2 linked regions of the Homo sapiens genome follow. The protein of the gene in region 2 interacts with the protein of the main gene of each other region in a pairwise test. Each region holds a gene or a part of one and is shown on either strand. Other genes may lie near its edges. The genes, in order: KIFAP3 and MARK2.

Region 1 (3,821 bases), on a different chromosome or scaffold from region 2:
ACCTGGCTAGTTTCCTCATTTAATATGTTTATATCATAATTCCCTTTTATTTATGGCTTTAGTTTTTTCCTTAAATCATGAATGTGTAGTGAATGTCATCAAATGTTTTTCTGCATCCATTGGAGGATCATGTATTGTTCTTCTTTAATTCATAAATATACTACATCAAATTCATTAAATACATAAAACCATACTCATATTCTTAGAATAAGCACAACTTGTTAATGCTGTCTTAAAGCACTGTTAGATTAAATTTGCATCCTTGCTCATTCAGCCTGCAATTTTCCTTTCTAATGTCCTTTTTCTGACTTTCATATGGAGATTATTCTAAAATCTTAATATAAATTAGTTGAGGAGTATCCTTTTTTTTCTAGACTTCTTGGAAGAGTTGTACATAATTGGAAGCATCTGTTTCCCAAAAATTTTGTTAGAATTTGACTTTAAAACTGTCTGGATGTAGCAGATTTTATCAGTATGAAATACTCCTCTGTAGTTTTTACAGTATACGTTTTCTTAAAGCCTATTTTATCTGACATTAATATGGTCATTTTAGCATTCTTATGCTTACTGTTTGATTGCACCCATTTACCATTAACTTACCATGTCCATACTTAAAAGTATATTTTTTGGGGATGACAGATAGTTGGGTCTTGCTTTTCTTTTTTCTTTATAAAAGAAATATTGGTGGCCGGGCGCAGTGGCTCACGCCTGTAATCCCAGCATTTTGGGAAGCCGAGGTGGGTGGATCATGAGGTCAGGAGATCGAGACCATCCTGGCTAACATGGTGAAACCCTGTCTCTACTAAAAAATACAAAAAATTAGCTGGGCATGGTGGCGGGCACCTGTAGTCCCAGCTACTTGGGAGGCTGAGGCAGGAGAATGGCGTGAACCCGGGAGGCGGAGCTTGCAGTGAGCCAAGATCATGCCACTGCCCTCCAGCCTGGGCGACAGAGCAAGACTCCACCTCAAAAAAAAAAAAAAAAAAAAAAAAAAGAAATATTGGTAATCTCTGCCTTTCCATTGGAACATTAAAACCTATGCTGTCTGATACAATAGTCACTAGCTACATGGGTCTATTTAAAATTAAATTTAAATACATTACATTTTAAAAATAATTAAAAATGCAATTCCTTAGCTGTACTAACCACGTTCAAAGTGTTCATTAGCCATACAGCCAGTGGCTATGTATTTGATGATGCAGCTGTAAGTCATTTCCATCAGGGAAGAAAGTTCTATTGGACATTATTGTTTTGGATCATTTAATGCAATGACTGACATACTTAGATTCAGATCTATCACTTCATTTTTATTTCCTGTTTGGCCCAACTATACTTTGATTATTTTCCTAACAGCCTTGTGAATTATTATTTTTTAAATTCCATTTTGTGTAGATGTTTTCACTATACTTTTAAAAACTGTTTTTGGTGGTTGCTTTAGGAAAAACAATGTTTTAGTTACCTTTTTTTTTTCACAAGGTATTTAAGAATTAATGCTGTGCTACTTCACAAATTGCAGGTCTATTGCCTACACCCCCCCCCCCATTCTTTATGTTATAGCTGTCATATGCATTATGTGTACATACCTTATAAACTCACACAAAAATTTCATAATTTTTGCTTTCAAGTCATATGTATTTTTAAAAAATTAAGAGGGAAATAATCTCTTATATGTACTCAAATATTTATAATTCCTGATGCTTTTCATATTGGTAAAACCAAAACAAGTTTTATATTTCTATTACTAACATTAGACTTGGTAATAGAGAAACAGAGGATTAAGGTAATTCAAACCAATGCACCTTCTAAGAAAATCTTAAAAGCTGGGGGCAAAAACACGTATGTGTGTATCTGTTTGAGGCCATAAGAGAACTAAAAAGGCACAAAAAATTACAGTGCCAAGATCCAGGAGAAAAAGAAAATGAAGAGAGGTAAATCTTGAATTTGAGGCTACTTTTCCCTAGAGGTATCTGCTAACTGAAAAGAGAGGGCTGAGAGGTTGAGAATCTTTTAATAATCACATGAGGCTAGAGACACAAAAACTGGATTCTAGAGTGCACCAAACAACAGTGGCTCTGGTAAAGCTCCAAGCTTTAAGCTTGAAACAGGAGGACTACCTCCTAGGAGTAACTGTGAAACAGATGCAGATCGGTCACCAACAAGACTAAAAAGCCCAGTTTAATGTAATTGAATCTCTGAGAACTAATTAAGGTGACCCTAAATTTTCAGTAATCCTTACTAACATAAATAAAATATAATCTTCTCTGGAAAAAGAGAACATCATCCTGAGCCTCAAATGATTATTTATACATTTATATTCCTATATATGATACTCAAAGAATAGTCATCTTCAGAAAAAACTAGATAATTTTTTTAAATTTCTAGAATTAAAAATACAATAACCAAAATTAAGAATAATAATAAATAAATAGGTTTAATAGCAGATTAGATACGGGTAAGGAGATAATTTATGGCATAAAATATAAGTCAGAAGAAAACACCCAGAATAAAACATAGAGACAAAAAGATGTAAAACACAAGCAAAAGTATAATTCAGCAATGCATACTGAGTAGGTCTAGCATATGTACTTGAAGTCCCAGAAAAAAGGTGAGAGAGAATGGGTACAGAGCAATATATGAAAAGATAATGGCTAAGTGACATCAGTGAAAACGGCAGAGTAGGGACCTCTAGAGGCTGGCACTCCCCAGAAGCACTAAAAACTTGGCAAAAAAAACCTATCACAATCAACCTCATCAGAACTCTGGAAGACAGTCAAAGGTTTACAGCAACCAAGTGAATGTTTAATCAGAAGAAAGGTTACAGAAACAAGGTAGGCGATCATTATGGTCTTTTCACTTACCCTAGACATCCACCCCACTCTCAAGCACAGTGGCAGTCTTCAAGATGGCAGCCCACGTTCCCACTGTTAATACTTGGTTCTAGAGGAGTCAAGTGGACCTTGCTCCCAAGGAATTTTGTCTGATTGTTTTGCAACTGACTGAAGTTTCCTTTGAGGTCAGCTGCAAGGGGCTTTCCTTTGTTTTGACTAATTTTAAACTCTTATCAGGATAGTGCAGCTATGCAGTCACTGAAATCAGTGAAAGCCAAGCATACAAGCTGCTGGCCCCTGGGATAAATAGTAATAGCTGGGTCAAACAAAACACAAGCTGAAAGCCCAAGAGGAAAGTCCAGGGAGTCAGACATTTTGGGGGAATAGATGCTTTGAAAAGCTATTGCATATAAAGAGAAATCTAGAAATCCATGAGCATGCTCAGGGCAGAATACATACCCAGAAAAAACCTGGGAAGATCATAAGCTTTTACCTCTGGCTGGTCTTCAGGCTCTGTGCAAGCAGCAAATGAAGGCTAAGGTAAAATTGTAAATTGCCTGGCTAAGTGTTGAAGCCATATCCAAACACTGAGTCAACCTACAAAGATCTGAAGAGTATTTTTTTCTTTTCTTTTTTTCCTTTGGATACCATAATATTCAAAATACCCAGTTTTCAACAAAACAAAATATGAAACATGCAAAGAAACAAGAAACTCATTCTCATTCTCACAATAAAAAAAATTAACAGAAACTGTCCATGCTACAGCACAAACACTGGACTTATCAAAGACTTTAAATCAACTGTCTTAAATATGTCCAAAGAGCAAAAAGAAACCAGTGCAAATAACTAAGAAAAAGGAGAAACACAATGTCTCAACACATAAATAGTTTAAAAATATATTATCATAAGGATCCAAACAAAAACACTAGATCTGAAAAGTACAATAACTGAAATAAAAAAATCACTACAGGGTTTTTAACAGCAGATCTGAGC
Region 2 (3,821 bases):
ATAACTGCTTCAACGCCCTCATCGCCACCCAAAACTTACATGAACCTTTATTTTTTATTTATTTATTTTTTTGAGACAGAGCTTTACTCTTGTTGCCCAGGCTGGAGTGCAATGGTGCGATCTCAGCTCACCGCAACCTCCACCTCCCGGGTTCAAGCAATTCTCCCACCTCAGCCTCCCGAGTAGCTGGGATTACAGTCATGCGCCACCACGCCTGGCTAATTTTGTATTTTCAATAGAGATAGGGTTTCTCCATGTTGGTCAGGCTGGTCTCAAACTCCTGATCTCAGGTGATCCGCCCGCCTTGGCCTCCCAAAGTGCTGGAATTACAGGCGTGAGCCACTGCGCCCAGCCATAATAACTTTGTTGGGTAGAAACGTAGTAGCCCTTCCTGCATGGAAGGACTGCATGGCCGAAGTCGAACCCGAGTCTCCCGCGTAGGAGACGAAATTTCTGCCGCTGAACTACGAATGCCCCACTGAACCTTTGTTATTTATCACTTTACATTTATTTGCCATCTCCCCCAGTAAAAATGGAAGCACATGAAAGCAGGCATATATTCTTTATTCACTGATACATCCCAGCACTTAGAGAGACTGGCTTATGTTTGCTGCTCAATGAATACTTGTACAATGAAAGAACTGAACGATTAGGTCTGAGCAAGGCAGCAGTCTGCCCTGCTCTGCCACCCGGCTCAAATGAGGGGATGAGGAAGCAGAAGCTACAACTACCAGCACTGAAGAGGCATATAAACATAATACGGGTTGAATATCCTTTATCCAAAATGCTTAGGACCAGAAACGTGGCAGATTTTAAATTGTTTTGGATTTTGGAATATTTGCATATACATAATCAGATATCTCAGGGATGGGACCCAAGTCTAAACATTTATTTTTCATGTGTACATTATATACATGGCCTGAAGGTAATTTCATGACATTTTAAAATAATTTTGTGCATGAAATAAAGTGATTGAATTTTGCTTATAACCTGTCATATGGGGTTACGTGTAGAATTTTCCACTTGTGGCATCATGCTGGCACTCAAAAAGTTTAGATTTTGGAGCATTTTGGCTTTTGGATTACGGATGTTCAACCTGTACAAAAAGGGTATGGTCTAGACAAAAAACATACATCTATGTGAAGACGTGTACATTCCTCAAAGTGCTAAACACAGACTATATGAGCCAGCAATTCCGCTCCTCAGTATATACAAAAGAGAAATGAAAACAGAAATCCACAAAAAACCTGTAACCAAGGTTCACAGCACCATAATCCATAATAGTCAAAAAGTGGAAACAATTCAAATGCCCATCAGCTGGATGAACGGATAGACAAACGTAGCATATCCTTACCGGGGAATATTGGTTGGCAGTAAAAAAGAATATATGCTACAACACAGAAGAAACTTGGATAAACTTATGGTATCTCACTAAAACTGTTCAGAGTCTAGGCCAGGCAAGGTAGCTCATGCCTAAATCCCAGCACTTTAGGAGGCTGAGGCAGGAGGATCACTTGAGGCCAGGAGCTTGAGACGAGCCTGGGCAACATAGGGAGACTCTGTCTCTACAAAAAATTAAGAAATTAAGAAATCTTGGGAGGTTGAGGCAGGTGGATTGCTTGAGGTCAGGAGTTCGAGACCAGCCTGGCCAACATAGTAAAACCTTGTCTCTACTAAAAATACAAAAAATTAGCTGGGCATGGTGGATTACAGGTGCCTGTAATCCCAGCTACTAGGGAGGCTGAGGCAGGAGAATTGCTTGAACCCAGGAGGAGGAGGTTACAGTGAGCTGAGATCGCACCACTGCACTCCAGCCTGGGCAACAAGAGTGAAACTCCGTCTCAAAAAAAAAAAAAAAAAAAAATTAAGAAATCAACTGGGTGTGGTGGCATGCACCTATAGTCCCAGCTGCTCTGGAGGATGAGGCGGGAGGATCGCTTGAACCCAGGAGGAGTTCGAGGCTGCAGTGAGCCATGATCATGCCATTGTACTCCAGCCTGGGTGATAGAGCGAGACCCTGTCTCAAAAAAAAAAAAAAAAAATGCAGAGTCTGGTCTAACTCCTGATTAGCGCCCTGGTTTACATCTCACAAAGAACATCTGGAGCGATCGCTCCAGCATACTGCAACAAAGCATATGAGGCCAGAGCCTCATCCCAGAACCATCCAGAGCTGCCTTGGAAACTTCAAGGAAACAGTCTGGAGGGCAGCAGGGTGACCAGAGGAGTGTGAGTGAAAGTTCTTCCTTTCATGGCCCCTGCTGGCTGTACGTGAAGCACTCAAAAACCACAGAGAAAAAAAGAATGACTTGCTACTACCCAAGGAACTGTCCAGCATTCCTAGACAAGAAGCTTGCTAGCTCAACCAGATGCTTTTCAGGCAGAAACGACAGCAGCAAGTTAAGTACAGTATCCTGATTCTGACATTTCCCCTTCTTCACTGTGCCCACGTAGGGCCTTTGCATGGTAGCTGCAGGCTGTCTTTTGGTGAGCTGTTTGACCAGATCCCAGAAACACATGGGGTTGGACCTTGGAGGAGGAAGATCCCATGCATTTGGTAGATGTTTGAAGGGGGAGGCTCCTCACATCCCAGAAGAGGCCCTTTTAACTTCCTTCTCTCTTCCTCATCAACCTTTGCATCTCCATGAAGCCCCCCAGCTCTTATTGTCTGCTCATTCCAGCCCACAGAGCTCTCTGGTGCTCTGTTCTCCACGCACCCTGTAGCTCACCTAAGCCTGGTTGGTCCTCAAACAGTGTCTGCAAGACAAGTGGATTTTTAAATACCTGCTTTTTTCCCTTCCAAAGGAACTCTAGGGTTCACACCCCTTGGAGAGAAGGGCATTTCTAGGCCCTGCTGGCACCTGATTGGGCCAGCCTCCTGAAGGGTACCCTAGCCCTGTCCAGCAGGGTACTGAAAGCCTGGTCTCCTCAGGCTACCTTTTTCTCAGCCCCATCCTCCCTTTCAGTGCTGCTAGACTGCCTCCAACCCTACCCATCTGCCTAACGGGCAATGAACAGGAAAAAACCTTCCTTCTGCCCCAACTCCTACGAGAGGAAGATGGGTGGGAAAGTTTCCTTGGCAACCTCTAGTTCACCTTCTAAGTTTGTTGTCACTCCCTGTTTCTCCGAGGATATAAGCCCAAGGCAGCAGGAAGTGTGACGGTCTCTAAGTTCTCAAAATCCAGACCAGGGATTTAGCATCTACCTGCAGACTTGGGCCTTTTGCCAACTGAGACCAAATCTGGGCATCCCATGCCCATCCTGAGCTCTGCTCTGCCCATCCCTCTTGGTGAACCGAGGGGCTGGTCTGTGTGGCACAGCAGGTCAGCATTCCCTGCCTGGCCCTGCTGCACAAGTGGGCCTCAAGGAGCTTAACAACCACAAGCAAGATTGTACCATTCATTCTCTTCCTTTCTGGTTAAGACTGTAGATGTCGGAGATAAGCTGCCAGGTTTCAAATCCTAAATCTGTCACCTACTCAGCACATATTAACTTTATTATTATCATCAACATCATCAAGCCAGGCACAGTGGCTCATGCCTTTACAGGCAGCACTTAGGGAGGCAGAGGCAGGAGGATAGCTTGAGCCCAAGAGTTCAAGACCTGCTGTTCACAAAAAGGAAAAAAAAAAAAGAATATATTTAAAAAGGCAATACAGTGAGACCCCCATTCACAAAAAGGAAAACACACACACACACACAAACAAACACAAAAAGCCCCAAAATAAAACAAGTGTAACATCAACATTGTCAAGAAGGAGGTGAGACTATTACAAATGGGGAAGAGAACTACCCAAAAAACGACCAGTGGCCAATACTGCCAGA

The links.
Region 1: the proteins of MARK2 (region 2) and KIFAP3 interact in a two-hybrid assay, tested with the Homo sapiens proteins (one large-scale study listed by BioGRID).

What each region holds. Positions count from the first base shown.
Region 1 is NC_000001.11:170,064,646-170,068,466, forward strand, and holds part of KIFAP3 (kinesin-associated protein 3), read right to left. Parts: exon of another isoform or gene 2,859-3,821; intron 1-2,858. UniProt on the Homo sapiens protein: Involved in tethering the chromosomes to the spindle pole and in chromosome movement. Binds to the tail domain of the KIF3A/KIF3B heterodimer to form a heterotrimeric KIF3 complex and may regulate the membrane binding of this complex.
Region 2 is NC_000011.10:63,890,948-63,894,768, reverse strand, and holds part of MARK2 (serine/threonine-protein kinase MARK2), read right to left. Parts: intron 1-3,821. UniProt on the Homo sapiens protein: Serine/threonine-protein kinase. Involved in cell polarity and microtubule dynamics regulation. Phosphorylates CRTC2/TORC2, DCX, HDAC7, KIF13B, MAP2, MAP4 and RAB11FIP2. Phosphorylates the microtubule-associated protein MAPT/TAU.